Linked DNA regions of Homo sapiens: region 2 is linked to region 1. A link means that fine-mapping ties the variant in region 1 to the expression of a gene that starts in the linked region. Tissue or cell type: whole blood. Region 1 holds a variant in brackets; the other region holds the start of a gene. All regions are shown on one strand. Distances are between the middles of the regions.

Region 1 (8,184 bases):
CGAGGGAACAGAGTAGTTCCCAAGAGAGTGGGTTGTTATAAAGCCAGGATGTGTTTCAGATTTTTGTCTCTCTTCACACATGTCCACTTCCCCTTTGATGTTCTCTACCACGTTATGATGCAGTACAAAAGACCTTGCCAGAAACCAAGGCCATGCCCTTGAACTTCCCAGCCTGCAGAACTGTGTGAGCTAAATAAACCTCTTTTCTCCTCTTTCTTTCTTTCTCTTTTCTCTTTCTTTCTTTCTTTCCTTTCTTTTTTTCTCTCTTTCTTTCTTTTTTTCTTTCTTCTTTTCCCTTTCTTTCTCCTTCCTTCCTTCCTTCATTCCTTCCTCTTTCTTTCTCCCTTTCCTGTCCTTTCCTTTCCTTTCCTTTCCTTTCCTTTCCTTTCCTTTCCTTTCCTTTCCTTTCCTTTCCTTTCTTTCCTTTCTTTCTTCTGTTCCCCAGGCTGGAGTGCAGTGGCATGATCTTGGCTCACTGCAACCTCCACCTCCTGGGTTCAAGCGATCCTCCCACCTCAGCCTCCCAAGTAGCTGGAACTGCAGGTGTGTGCCACCACATCCAGCTAATTTTTTGTAAATTTTTTTTGTACAGACTGGGTTTCAATATGTTGCCCAGGCTGGTCTTGAACTCTGAGGCTCAGGCAATCCACCTGTCTTGGCCTCTCAAAGTGCTGGGACTATAGGTGTGGGTTACCACACCTGGCCAAATCTCTTTTCTTTATAAATTACCCAGTCTCAGATATTTTGTTAGGATGACACAAAACAGACAACACAGAGATTAAACTTGTGAATGTGTCATACCTGTAGTCATTACATTGTGAAAAACACAAAAAATTGAGGAAATAAATACTCTTGAAGTATTCAAAAACGATTTTTCAATTTAACCAAGAAGTTGCTCATATCATTGACCAACAAGTGAAGTTCAGGCAAGTTGTTTCACTTTAATTTCAAGTTGTTCCATTTTAATTTTAAGTTGTTCATATATAAATAAAACCATCAACCAACATTCATACTGGAAACTACACTCAGAACCAGTTGTTTATCATATATCATCATACCACTGATTTTACAGCATATAAATAATGAAAGTCTCTCTTTCAAATATTACATCTTATCTTATTTTTTGCATCTACTGCATCGGCTAGGGCTCTAATACAATGTGGAATAACAGCAGTGTTTCTCGACATTCTTGATTTGATCCTAATTTTAATGTTTCTATTTTGTTATTAAAAATGATGTTGTTCTGGATTTCTGGTAGATATTAGTGAGAGTTCTGGAATTTCATTTGAATACTTTCCTTCCTACATACTAATAGGAAACTTCTGCTGCTGGTTCTAGGAAAATTTCCTATTAAAAAAAATTCTTCCATTTTCTACAATTCTTTATTTTCCTTCCAAATTGTATGAACATATGGATTCCAGAGACCTAGCAACACTTGGCACAACATCACACTTAAACAAAACACCTCTTGTGGCTCCCTGAAAAAACATGCCTATACTCCTTGTTTCTACTCCCTAGCCCATCATTACTCTTATGTCAATTTATGCCACTCTTATGCCATATGTGCTTTTGTTCCCTGTACCCACCCCACACCACTAAAACTCCTCAAGTTGAAGTTATCAGAGACCTCTATTGTGCCAAATCCACTTGGTAATTCACTGTCCTCATCTCAGAGCATTACCTATTATTATCCACTTGACCATCTTTCCTTCAATCCCTCTCTCTGCTTGGCATCTGGGGCATCATGCTCTTTTGGCCTTATTCCCTCTTCATTGGCCACTCCTTTTTAGTTTTCTTTACTTGCTGTGTTGGTCTGTTCTTGTGCTGCTATGAAGAAATACCAGCTCCTGGGTAATTTATAAAGAAAAGAGGTTTAATATGCTCATAGTTCTGCAGGCTGTGCAGGCACGGTGCTGGCATCTGCTCTGCTTCTGGGGAGGCCTCAGGAAGCATTTACTCATGGCGAAAGGCAAAGCGAGAATGGGTGCATCACATGGCAAGAGTAGGAGCAAGAGAGGGAGTAAGAGAGAGAGAAGAAGGAGGTCCTAGACTCTTTTAAACAACCAGATCTTGTGTGAACTGAGCGAGAACCCACTCATCACCAAGGAGATGGTGCTAAGCCATTCCTGAAAGATCTGCCATGTGACCCGATCACCCCCCACCAGACCCCACCCCCAGCACTGGGGATTACATTTCAGCATGAGATTTGGAGGGGACAGACATGCAAACTATATCACTTACTTCTCTTCCTCATTTTTGTCTCTGTATGTGGAAAGTCCTGGTGAGCTTGAGCTTAGTCCTCAGCCCTCTTTTCTACCCAGTTCGATGGCTTCAAGTACAGTTTATTTGCTGACAACTTCTACATTTATGTTTGCCAAACTTCTTTCTAGAGTGTTCAAATACATACTCCTATATCCATTTGGATATCTCAGAGACATCTCAACCTTAATGAAGCCAAAATCATACTCTTAATTCTGAGCCCTGCCTCCAAGTCTACTCCGTTTTCAGCATTCCTTTCTTAGCTAATGACACTATTATTGGCTTATACCACAATCTATAACTCACACAGGATTCTGTTCTTCCTCTCGCTTCCACAGTGGGTTTGTATAAACCAAACCCTACAGCCAAGTAATGTGATACACTTAATGAAGCGTTGGTAGCTATAGCCCCTTGGTCAAATCCAGTTTGCTGCCTGTTTTTGTAAATAAAGTTTTATTGGAAAGCACCATACAATTCAATTGTGTTTTGTCTATAACTTCTTTTGTGCTATAATGGCAGGCTGAGTAGTTGAACAGAGATCATATGGAACAGAGATCAAAAAGCTTAAACTATTTACTATCTTGTGTTCGCTATAGAAAATGTTTGCCAACCCTTCTTTTAATCGGCTGGAATACCGCTGACCCAACCTGAACTATGGTTGGGTCATATGTTTATGTTGCAACATTTATTTGCTGACAACTTCTACATTTTTTGTGACAATGTTTATGTTGAAAGTGTTTCAGTTCTCTGCCATGTTATATCAAACTACCACCACATTTCGTGGCTTAAAACAATCATTTGTTGTTGTTCATGATTTGTAGATTGTAGATCTTCTGTGTCACATGGTATTGGCTGGGGAGCTAGACTTGGTGGTTGGAAGGTCCAGAATTGCTTCACTCCCATGGCTGACAGTTGGTCTCTACCTGGGTCTTAAATGGGGCTGTCAGCTGAAACCCTCATTTTTCTTTGATGTGGATCTCTCCCATGTGACTGCTTGGACTTCCTCAGAATATGTCAGCTAGGTTCCAAGAATGGGCATTCTTAGAGAACAATCACCAATATGCAAATGCTTATGAAGCCTCTGCTTTGCAACATTTAATAATATCAATTTGTGAGGAGGAGGGACTGCTCCTCAACTCATTCTATGAACCAGCATCATCCTGATACCAAAACCTGGCAGAGACACAACAAAAAACATAAACTTCAGGCCAATATCCTTGATGAACATTGATACAAAAATTCTCAACAAAATACTAACAAATA[G/T]AATCCAGCAGCACACCAGAAAGCTAATCTAACATGATCAAGTAGGATTTATCCCTGGTATGCAAGGCTGGTTCAACATATGCAAATCAATAAACATGATTCATCACATAAACAGAACTAAAGATGAAAACCACATAATTAACTTAATAGATGCAGAAAAGGCTTTGGACAAAATTCAACATCCCTTCATGTTAAAAACTCTCAACAAACTAGGTATTGAAGGAACATACCTCAAAATAATAAGAGCCATCTATGACAAACCTACAGCCACGATCATATTTAGTGGGCAAAAACTGGAAGCATTCCCCTTGAAAACAGGCACAAGGCAAGGATGCCCTGCTTTATCACTCCTATTCAACATAGTGTTAGAAGTCCTGGCTAGAGCAAACAGATGGGAGAAAGAAATAAAGGGCATCCAAAAAGAAAGAGAGGGAAGTGAAACTATCCCTCTTTGCAGGCTACATGATTCTATATCTAGAAAACCCCATAGTCTTATCAAAAGCTCCCTGAGCTTTTAAGCAACTTCAACAAAATTTCAGAATACAAAATTAATATACAGAAATCACTGGCATTCCCATACACCAACAACAGCCAAGCCAAGAGCCTAATCAGGAACCCAATCCCATTCGCAATTGCCACAAAAAGAAGAAAATACCAGGAATATAGCTAACCAGGAAGGTGAAAGATCTCTACGATGAGAATTATGAAACACTACTCAAAGAAATCAGAGACGACACAAATGGAAAAACATTTCATGCTTATGGTTAGGAAGACTCAATATTGTTAAAATGATCATACTGCCTGCTATTCCTATCAAATTACTAATGACATTTTTCACAGAAGTGGAAAAAATGATTTTAAAATTCATATGGAACCAAAAAAGAGCCCAAATAGCCAAGTCAATCCTAAGCAAAAGAACAAAGCAGGCATCATGCTACCTGACTTCAAACTATACTACAGGGCTACATTAACCAGAACAGCATGGTTCTGGTACAAAAACAGACACATAGACCAATGGAACAGAATAGAGAGCCCAGGAATAAGACCAAACACATATAACCATCTGATCTTCAACAAAGCTGACAAAATAAGCGATAGGGAAAGAACTCCCTATTCAATAAATGGTGCTGGGATAACTGGCTATCCATATGCAGAAGATTGAAACCAGCCCCCTTCTTTACACCACATACAAACATCAACTCAAGATGGATAAAAGACTTAAATGTAAAACCCCAAACTATAAAAACCCTGGAAGACAACATAGGCAATACCATTCTGGACATAGGAAAGGGCAAATATTTCATGATGAAGACACCAAAAGTAATGCAAGAAAAGCAACAATTGACAAATGGGATCTAATTAAACTAAAGATCTTCTGCGCAGCAAAATAAACTATCAACAGAGTGAACAGACAACCTACAGAATGGGAGAAAATTTTTGCAGACTGTATCTGACAAAGGCCTAATATCCAGCATCTACATTGGAACTTAAACAAACTTACAGGAAAAAAACAAATCACCTCATTAAAAAGTGAGCAAAGGCATGAACACTTTTCAAAAGAAGATATACATGCAGCCAACAAGCATATGAAAGAAAGTCACTGATTATTACAGAAATACAAATCAAAACCACAATGAGGTACCATCTCACACCAGTCAGAATGGCTGTTATTAAAAGTCAAAAAATGACAGATGCTGGCAAGGTTGTGAGAAAAGGGAACACTTATATACTGTTTTGGGAGCATAAATTCGTTCAACCATTGTGAAAAGCAGTGTGGCAATCCCTAAAAGGGCTGAAGACAGAACTACCGTTTGACCCAGCAATCCCATTACTGGGTCTATACCCAAAGGAATATAAATCATTCTATCATAAAGACACATGCACGTGCATGTTCATTGCAGCACTATTCACAATAGCAAAGAAATGGAATCAACACAAATGCTCCTCAATGATAGACTGGATAAGAAAATGTGGCACATGTACACCATGGAATACTATGCAGCCATAAAAAAGAACAAGATCATATCCTTTGCAGGAATATGGATGGAGCTGCAGGCCGTTATCCTTAGCAAACTAACCCAGAAACAGAAACAAATAACCACATGTTCTCATTTGTAAGTAGGAGCTAAATGATGAGAACACATGGATACAGCGAGGGAAACAACAGATGTGGGGGCCTACTTGAGGGTGAAGGGTGCGAGGGGGAGAGGATCAGAAAAAATACTTATTGAGTACTAGTCTTAGTACCTGGGTCATGAAATAATTTGTACAACAATCTTTCGTGACGTGAGTTTATCTATAAAACAAACCTGTACAATTACCCCTGAACCTAAAATAAAAGTTTTTTAAAAATTAATTTGGCCCAAACTGGTCACATGGCCAAGTTCAGAGTAAATGTGAGAGAGAAATACACAAAGGTGTGAGCATGGGAGGTATGGTTCGTTGGGACCCCCAAAATACAGTGTACCTCATGGTGGTTCCCTAAAAACCCAACAAAAGAGTGAATGAGTGCTGGGCAGAGTTTTAAAAAATGTCTACTATGAGCTACTAAAGTTTTAACTTACTTAATTTGAATAAAATGTTGAATTTTATTAAATCCTTCTTTAGCACTTTTGAGTTGGTTATATAATTTTTTCTTTTAGTTTATTAATGTTGTTTCACAGTTACATAAATTCATTTAAAAAATTAATTCATTTAAAATTTGGACTATTATTTGATTCCTGGATAGAACTTTTTAATCATAATATATTATGTACTGTAGGATTCAATTTTCTAATAACTTATTTATGACTTTTGCATTTAAGATTGTAAATAAGATTAGGGGATTTCAATTCCTCTGGGAGGCCACTGGTGGTCCTGATACTGCAGCTTCTGTTGCATGGGACCTGCTGTGGCTGCCTGAATCGTAGAGAGGATGCCAGGACACCAGGAAGCTGGAAATGGACTCAGTAGGCTTTGAGAATGTGGCTGTGAACTTCACCCAGGAGGAGTGGGCTTTGCTGGGACCTTCCTGGAAGAATCTCTACAGAAATGCAATGCTGGAAGCCTTCAGGAATCTGGTGTCTGTAGGAATCAAATGGAAAGCCAGGACATTGAAAATCTGTCCCAAAATCTTGGGAGAAAGCTACGAAATAATATGGTGGAGAGACTCTGTGGATGTAAAGAAGGAGTCAATGTGGAGAAACCCGCAGCCAGAAAGCAGATTGTCATCTGAACAAGAAAATTCGTACTGGAGTAAAACCATGCAAGGCAGTGTGTGTGGAATAGTCTTTGTACATCATTCATTCCTTCATAGGCACATGAGCTCACTCTGGACACAAACAATATGAGTGTGGTGGGGAATATGGTGAAAAGCCCCATAAACATAAACAATGTGGGAGAGCCTCCATTTCTCCCAGAAGTGGTCCAAGACTCATGGTAATATGCACTAGAAAGGGATGTTATAAATGCAAGCTATGAGGCAAAGCCCTTAATTTCAGTATTTATTTCACAATGAACTCACACTGGAAAGAGGTTCTATAAATGTAGAGAAATTGTGAGAGCCTTCACTGTTTTCATTTACTTTCAAATACATGAAAACATTCACACTGGAGAAAAATGCTGTGAATGTAAACACTGTGGAAAAACATTTGATTGTTCCAGTTCCTTTCATTTTAATTTTTAATTAAATTAAATTTATTTTTTGAGATGGAGCCTCACTCTGTCACCCAAGCTGGAGTGCAGTGGCGCGATCTCAGCTCACTGTAACCTCTGCCTCCTGGGTTCAAGCAATTATCCTGCCTCAGCCTCCCGAGTAGCTGGGATTACAGGCGTGCACCACCACATCTGGCTGATTTTTGCATTTTTAATAGAGATGGGGTTTCATCAGGTGAAACCAGGCCAGGCTGGTCTTGAACTCCTGACCTCACGTGATCCACCTGCCTTGGCCTCCCAAAGTGCTGGGATTAAAAGGTGTGAGCTAATGCGCCTGGCCCTAGTTCCTTTCAAATACATGTTAGAACTTACACTGGAGAAAACCCTTACCAATGCAAACACTGTGGTAAAGCATTCATTTCTTCAACTTACCTTTGGACATATGAAATCAGAGCTCATGTTCTCGAGAAATCTCATGAATGTAAGGAATGTGGGAAAAGACGCAATTGTTCCAGTTTCCTTTGAAGACACAAAAAAATGCATAGTGCAGGAAACCTTCATGAATGTAAAAAATGTGGTGAAGTCTTTAGATGTCCCACGTCCCTTCAAGCACATGAAAGAACTCATATTGGAGAGAAACCCTACGAATGTAATACATGGGGCAGAACCTTTAATTATCTCAGTTCCTTTTGAAGACATGAAAAAACTCATACTGGAGGAAAATCCTATGAATGTAGAAGGTGTGGTAGGACCTTTGGGTCGTGCAGTTCCCTTGGAAGACATGAAAGGACTCACGCTAAACAAAAACCCTATGACTGTAAACAATGTGGGCAAGTCTTCAGTTTTTAAAATTACCTTTGACTACAGGAAAGAACTCATTTTGCCCAGTGCAGCCAGTACTTTGAAAGACTGAGGCAGGAGGATCATCTGAGTCCAGCAGTTTGAGACCAGCCTGGGCAACATAACAAGACCTTGTATCAAAAAAGAAAAAAGAAAAAAAATTAACTGGGTCGGGTGGTATGTGCTGGT
Region 2 (8,184 bases), 40 kb after region 1:
CTGCTTCCCTTCACGCCTCTGTCCTGCTTGTTCTGCAAGCTGGTCTCATCTGAGCCCAGAGCAGCAGGCTAGTTCACTGACACTCATAGATTTGGCAGGAGCATTTGCTCTTTGAATACATTGATGTCAGGAGGTACACTTCAGATAGGGAAACAGGAAATTACTAGAAGACCTGAACAAGAATGGCAACTTGAAACTGGAACACACAAGGGTACTGGGTGTCTGGAAGCCAACTGAAGTAGAAAGATTTCCAGAGAATGTGGGAAATTACCATCCAAGCCTTCGGCCTTGGCCTCTAGGTCTCCAGTTTACTATAAACAGCAGGTGAAGACTTTCAGTAACTAGAAAGGAAGCCTCATTGACTGGCGATTGAAAATGTCAGGGGTGCAATGAATGCGTGTCTGGTAATCTGCCCAGTGTGTCTTCTCTGGGAAACCTCTGCTCATAAACAGGGATGGGCCCTGGCAGCCATACTGGTCCCCTGCAGCCCCCATCATCTATGATTAGGGTTAGGGTTAGGCAGGTGATTTAGTCCTTGTGGGTGCAGCTCTGGAACATCATTTCTCTGACACTGGGACATAGGAGCCAGGGGCTGGTTATCAGAATAGGAGAATAGAGCACAGGTGTAGAGAGAGCACCTGCTATGGAAAAAAATTCCATTGAGTTCCTCCTGGCTTTTCAGGTCTGCGATCTGGGTCTTCCTGAGGACTAACTTATTTTTGCCTTTGGGTTCTATTATACATCTATCTAATCTATCAATCAACGATCTATTATCTATCTATCAACTATCTATTATCTATCATCTATCTATCAACTATCTATTATCTATCATCTCTCTCTCTCTCTCTATCTATCTATCATCTATTTTAGAGACAGGGTCTTACTCTGTTGCCCAGGCTGGAACGCAGTGGCAAAATCTCTGTTCACTGCAGCCTAGAACTCCTGGCCTCAAGCAATCCTCCCACCTCAGCCTCCCGAGTAGCTAGGACTACAGCTGCACACCACCAAACCTGGCTAATTTTTAAATTTTTTGTAAAGATGTCTTGCTATGTTGCTCAGGCTGGTGTTGATTTCCTGGCCTCAAGTAATCTTTCCACCTTGGCCTCCAAAGTTGTTGAGATTATGGGCATGGGCTACTGTATGCAGCCTCTTCTGTCTATCTAATGAATTTCTGTCCTCTATTAGGGTGAAGAGATAGCTTTTCAGTGGCTTTGAAGCATTGTGCCAAATATTTCAAAGATCACATTTTAAAATCTACTTTTTGATTTATTTAGTTGCTGCAAATTTTGACTTATCTGTCACTAATCAGCTGGATGTACTGAGATACTTTGACATTTCCTAATGTCTGGTGCTTTCTCTTTCTGGCCCTCCATAGTGAGGGCTGGATCTCTTCCCTTATAGGTATCTGCTAATGCTGGAGGCTCAACTGATAAAGTAAAGATAGCCATCCCAAGAAGCAGGCGGAAAGGCTGGGGCTAATAGAACAGATCTCTACTCCAGGGGCTTCAATTCTGCCCTAGTTCTGGTCAAATAGGATTAATACTGCTCACCGTTACTATCCTAAAAGGGCTGTCATGGTTGAAAGTGGGCATTTACTATTTTCAGTGTCTTTTGTTGCTGGAATAAAGGAGATGATAATATGAAACAAAAATCAGGTTGCTTCTCCTCATATTTTGCTCAGCTCCCAAGCATTCAGAATGTCGTTACTAATTAGACATTTGTTTCAACATTCTGGGGCCATCCAGGCTAGGCAATCTTGTGATGTGGGGAAAGTTGACTGGTTATGCAATGGCTTTGCATTAGATCCCCTGCTCCCTTGCAGGCGCTGAATGCTCTTCTGTTGTTCTCTGGATCTAGAACCCTGTCCCTTTTCTCTGGGATGGCTCCTACTGATGTTTCAGCTTATTCCTCATTTGCTGCAGGACAGTCTCCTTGGCCCCATAGTACTCTTGATTTCCCCATCACCTGTGCAGTAATAGTTTCTCTATAGATCCACCAGTCTTGTCTTATTCATTGTTATATCCACAGATCTAACCTATTTCTAGTAAACAGTAGGTTCTTCCTAGATCCATTCCTGATGATTGGCTTAATGAATGAATGCTCATTTTACTGGTGACTCTGAAAAAGGAAAAAAAAAAATAATGATTTTACTCCACTATCAGCAACTCGATGTTGCCCGTCAGGAATCCTTGTAACAAAATACAAAGTTACCATTGCCTACGAGGTCCTCACCTCCTTCTCCAACCTGTCTAGTAGCACTCTCCTTATGCACCATGATACCCATGCTGGCTTTCTCTCTGTTCCTGCTATACATCACTTTTCTTCCTACTTCAAGTCCTTTGTTCTTGCTATTTTATCTGCCCTGGAGTTTTGCTAAGTTGGTGTTTTCTTATTTAGGTGGTGCCTCAAATCTTAGAGCATTTCTCTTAGATCATTTCTCCTTAAAGCATTTTTCTCCTTTCCCAAAATTAAGTGTGTCTCCCATCCCTCTGGTCACTGTTTTCTTCTTTGCCCTGATCCCGGTCTGGAAGTTTATCTTTTTATTGGATCATTGTCCATCTTCTGATAAAAACAGCTGCAAGTCTGTCTTGTTCAAGGCTATACTCTGAGTGCTTAGTAGAAAGCCTCGTTCATTGCAGTATCTAGTATTTGATGATTAATATTGATTACGTTTGATGAGTAAATGAATAAAAGAATAATCTTAGACATACATTATTTAATCCCAGTGAAAGAATGTTAGTGATGGAATTTCAGGTGTTATTGTAGAAGAAACTTTTGAAGGGTATTCCCTACAGTTTGTTCATACTAGGCTAAGTTCCTCTTCTTTTCCTTACACAATGTAAAAATATTAGATCTCAAAACTATTTGCTCAAAGTACTTACTTTAGGACACGTATTTTTAGACTACAGTTTAGAATTACAGTTATTATTAGAAAGGTTTGGTAAAAACTCTTTTTGTTAGGCAATAAGGTTATTCTGTCCTCCAAAGACCTTTACTTTATTCTCAGGAAGTAAGAGAGAAAAAAGAATTTCTTGTCTTCTTTCTATCAGGTGTTTTGCCCTTACTTCTCTTTAAGTTTATGTTTACCTTAACATTCCTTTCCTTCCTCAGGTTTGCTTTTTGTCTATCTCCATTTTTCACTATTACGTAATTCACGGAGTTGCTGGGGGGAAGTGCTTAATTTCAAATAGCCTGTTTTAGAACTTTGCGAGAATGACAAGAACAAACAGAATGTTAAGGCAGCTAGAGAGAGTTAAGTGAGAGTGGTCCCTAGGTGAGAAATGCTTCTTGCCTTCTAGGCTGACACCAGTTCTGGGGGATGTGTTCTGAGAGCTCATATTAACTGCAGGTCATTGATCCTTATCTCAATCCCCTTCCTCTCCCTTCAGCTTTCCATTCAAAGTCTCTATCACATCTTGAAGTGTTGTCACATTATTTTTTTTCTGATGATTCCCTCCATCAGCTGAGCTTTCCAATTTATATTACCTGATTTTTTTTTGTCTTCTGCTTTTTACTACCCCTTTTTCTAAAGCTTTATTGATTGTGTACTTTGGATTCTAATTCTTCCTATAAGAGTCTTCCTGTAATTCTGTTTGCAGTGTAGTGCTGTCCACATTATGTGTTGGTTACATGATAGGAAGGAGTATGGGGGCACCTCGGTCACATATGTAAAGTTCTTTAAGAGAGCTGAAGGGCGCTGATACCAGTTCATGTTTTTTCGGGGTAGCCCTCAGATATTAAGCATGTTTACTGTATTTTCTTCTATTGTGAAAGAATCAGTTCTCTGGATTTCCTTAAAGTTTGTCTTTACCATTCTCCGCACCCTACTCATTTTTCTATTTAAGAATTTTTTTTTCTAATCATGTAGTACATGTTCAATATGGAACACAAAAAGGTAATAAGAAAAAGTCACCTACAGTGTCGCCAAAGGTGAAAACACCTTATGTCTTTTTTCGTGCATAACAATATCCCTCTCAATCTTATGCAGCATTTTTAAACCTAGGAGACTTGTCTGAATCCAAAGGAAGTTAAAGATTACGTTATTCACCAAGTTCATACTGAAATCAGAGAATCGCAGCGGCTTAAGAAAACTCGCATCTGGCGAATGAACCTGCGTATCCGGGGTTCTCCTCAGGGAGGTTGCTCGTCCATGAAACACACTCCAGTCTGCAGCCACCTGGGAGTGGGAACCAAGGGCGAGCGAACCGGGCGGGCAGGGGTGGAACTTGCGGGGACTGCGGGTATGAGGAGGAGCTACAGAGCTGTCACCAATCAGAGCCCAGCTTTGTTTTCTCTTGCCGACCAATGAGGGAGTTCTGCTGGAGAGGCGTCTTCAAGTCTGAGACGCCTATCGCCTTCGCAGCCTATCAGCAGGCCCCTCTTACCCGCGGGCGGTGCAGCCCCGCCCCGCCCCTCCAACCGCGGTCCCGCCCCTCCGAGGGTGGGGGCCGTGTTGGTTACTAGCCGGGCTGGAGGCGGGGGCCGGGCTCCCACTGGGCTCGTGCGTTCTGCGCCCGCCGCGGCGGTGCCGAGCCCGCTGGCTCCCGATTGTCCTCTGCGGCGGTGGCGGTCGCTGCCTCCTTGCCTCCGGGCCCGGGGCTGCAGGGGCCAGAGCGAGTGCGCCTCCTGCCCGCGGACCGCGGCAGCCCAGAGCAGGTAATGGGGCGCCTCTGGGGAGCGCCTGTCGGAGCCCAGGGCTAGGCTCGGGCGGTGGGGTCGGCCCCCGAAGCTGCTCCCTGCGCCGGCGACCGGGCCGAGCGGTGCCGCGGTCCTCCGGAGCCTCCTGCCGGCCTCTAGGCGCCTCAGCCTGGGAGCCCGCGGCGGGCACCTTGTGAGGAGGTGGGGGCGGGGCCGGGGCAGGGGCGGGGCCGCCTCGGGCGGGACCCTGAGGACCCCTGGAGACCCCTGTTGACGCGCGGGACTCCGGGCGGGGGCGGCGGCGGGGCAGACCCAGAGCGGGGAGAACCGACAGGTGGAGGAAAAACTGCGGAGTTGAGTCAGAGTCCGGCTCCCCGGGGAAAAGAACCGACTGAAAGGGAGCGATAAGCTGGCTGGCTTCTTTTTTTTCTTTCCCTAAGCCAGAAAGGCGTCTTCACTTGGGTCGTGTTAATTACATGTTTTCTGAGAACAGGCGTTTGGCCGTGTAATCTACACGATAGCATTATTTATTTACTTATTTGCTATTTAAAAAATTAAAAGCAGCATTTAGCGTGAATCTATTTGGGGGCTTTTTCTTAAGTGACAGGTAGACCCAGCCGAGTAACTCAGCTTTGTCTGGGCTGAAGTGGGGAGCGGTGAGGTAGGAATGAGGGGGAGGAGTGTTCGTGAGGAATGCCTGTGCAGGTTTGAAAGGATTGTGGGGGTGGGACCTTGTTTCTGTCACTGTGCCATGGGTGGGAGTAGAATTGTGATTTTTTTCTTTTTCTAATTTTTAAAAGCAATATTCACATTTAAAAAAGGGGGGGCTCTCTAAAAACAGTCTCTGTACTCGAGGCTTTGGGGATGCACCTGCTAGTCAGGCAGTAATAGTTTGCAGGTAAATCCTGGGCTATTAATTACGTAATTTGATTTACTTATAAAGAAGTATCTTGAATTGTTGCTGCCTTTCCTTTGACTTGCTCAATATATTGCTTGTTTACAAGTGAATTGATGAAGGTCACTGAGTTTTAGCGGTAATGTCACAGCGATGGCCCTTGGAGAGTTTTCTATGCTCAGGTTCACTCTGGTTCTATAAAAACAGTATTTCCATTTAATCGTGAAGCTCATAGCACTCTATCAATTATATAGTATGCCATCCTCCTACTCTTCTGAGGCAGGCTGTGCATAGCATGTCCATTTTACAGGTATGTCAACTGAAAGCCCTAGAAATGAAAGGAATCCTGCCCCACTTTACTCCTACTTTATTTTATACCTATAATGGATTTAATCCAAAATCTGGGTAAGATTCCCGCCATCAAGCCAACTTCTGCATACCAATTTGATCCCGTATACACAGGTCAGAGGTGGAGATGGTTATTTTCAAGTAAAGAAATATTATCTGCGAGGTTTTTCTTTCCATTCAGGTTGCTTAGCTAGTTTGAATTTCAGGTGAAAGGTAATTTTCCACACAGGCAAAACAAACAAAAGTTAGGAATGCTGTGTGAAAATCTCTATTTTAAATTTTGGGAAGCTTTCCAAATTAGAGAACCTTATTTGTGTTTGCATCTCTAGCTCAGCATTGAATTTCGGTACCTTTTTTTGAATTGAATAGAAATAATTGATATGCAGAAGGAAAATACTAATGAAGTGTAATGCATTTTGATCATGACTTATGACTTTGTTTCGGGAAGTGTTTACTGTAAATTTATAGACGGATTGAAGAATAATTTCTTAATTAGAATAACTTGACCAAAGGAGTTTGGGCATTAGTGTGGGACAGGCTGAAATGGGTAGTTGGGAGTAGCCGCTTGTATGATGTTAAGGCTTAGGGAATTCTAGAGAATCGTTAGGTTTTGTTAAATTTACTAGTTATCAGGAACATGAAAATGTCTTATGGATTACTGAATGGAACTCTTTTTTTTTTTTTTTCTGAGGTGGAGTCTCACTCTGTTGTCCAGGCTGGAGTGCTGTGGCTCACTGTGATCTCTGCCTCCCTGGTTCAAGTGATTCTCCTGCCTCAGCCTCTTGAGTAGCTGGGACTACAGGCGCATGCCACCACGCCCAGCTATTTTTTTTTTTTTAATATTTTTGTAGAGATGGGGTTTCACTATGTTGGCCAGGCTGGTCTCGAACTCCTGACCTCAAGTGATCTGCCTGCCTTGGCCTCCCAAAGTGCTGGGATTACAGGCGTGAGCCATTGCACCCAGCCTGAATGTAACTGTTCTAATCATGAAGTTATCTCTTGTTTTGTGGCTAATACCTCTGTTTCACATGTACATTTTAACATATTCATGTAACATATAAGGCAACTCTTCTTACACAAGGCTGTCACTCTAGCCCAGCATTTATTTACTTATTTATGTTTTAGTGGCTTTATTTAACTTTTACTCTCCTGTCAAAATTTCTAGCACCCAAGCAAAAATTTCCATAAAGGAACTTTTATCATCTGTTGATTATACAGAAAATGAATCATTTATTCTCATAAGCCCAGCCCTCTTGCATTGTGGGACACTGGAAAGATATTTTGGCTGTTTGTAAAGTATTTGCTTGTATTCTTACCTGAAGCTTTGACTTCTCCCCCTCCCCCAATGGTTTTCAGAGTTTCTGTGACTTTTTTCTTTAAATTAATTATGACACTACCTGACTTCCACTAGATGGTGCACTGGGGGGCGCTTACTGGAGATTTCAAACAGATTTTTGTTTTTCCTTGTTATAAACATTTCACTGACAAAGATACAAAGGTACTGCAGCTGTTTCTCTCCTAATTGCAATTCAGACAAAATTGTAATGAATGACTTAAGTCTTGAGTTTTGGCCAGGCATGGTGGCTCACGCCTGTAATCCCAGCACTTTGGGAGGCCGAGGCGGGCGGATCACAAGGTCAGGAGATTGAGACCATCCTGGCTAACACGGTGAAACCCTGTCTCTACTAAAAAATAGAAAAAATTAGCCGGGCGTGGTGGTGGGCGCCTGTAATCCCAGCTACTCGGGAGGCTGAGGCAGGAGAATTGGCCTGAACCCAAGAGGCAGAGCTTGCAGTAAGCTGAGATCGTGCCACTGCACTCCAGCCTGGGCCACAGAGCGAGACTCCGTCTCAAAAAAAAAAAAAAAAAGTCTTGAATTTTGTTAAATGAGATACATTCGGAAGGAAAGGGTATTCCTTCATTTTGAATTTAAAGTGAAGGAAATTGTTAGTCAGGCTTGCTCTCTGAAGATACTGTGTTTTTTACAAACTGAAGGTTCGTTGGCAACCCTGCAAGTCGATTGGTGCTATTTTTCCAATAGTGTATGTTCATTTTGTGTGTCTCTGTCATATTTTGGTAATTCTCACAATATTGCAAACTTTTCATTGTTATTCTGTCTGTTATGGTGATCTCTGGTCAGTGATCTTTGATGTTACGATTCTAATTGTTTTGGGGCTCCATGAACTGCACCTATATAATATGGTGAACTTAACTGATAAATGTTACATATGTTCTGATATCTCCACCAACTGGCCATTCCCCAACTCTCTTCCTCTCCCCAGGCCTCCCTATTCCCTGAGACA

What was found. PIP is the estimated chance that this variant, and not a neighbour inherited with it, causes the effect.
Region 2: it holds the start of MPP7, and the variant in region 1 is fine-mapped to the expression of MPP7 in whole blood (INTERVAL, PIP above 0.99).

Annotation. Positions count from the first base shown.
Region 1 is chr10:28,339,220-28,347,403 of GRCh38, reverse strand. It overlaps the pseudogene ZNF101P1. Among named protein-coding and RNA genes, the nearest start is that of MPP7-DT, 40 kb to the right of the region's middle. The variant G/T (reference allele first, on the strand shown) is at 3,523.
Region 2 is chr10:28,299,333-28,307,516 of GRCh38, reverse strand. MPP7 (MAGUK p55 scaffold protein 7) reads left to right here and starts at 4,453. Exons shown (of 17, transcript NM_001318170.2): 1 at 4,453-4,656. MPP7-DT (MPP7 divergent transcript) reads right to left here and starts at 4,348. Exons shown (of 2, transcript XR_930772.3): 1 at 3,088-4,348; 2 at 1,246-2,118. RefSeq lists a silencer at 4,267-4,906.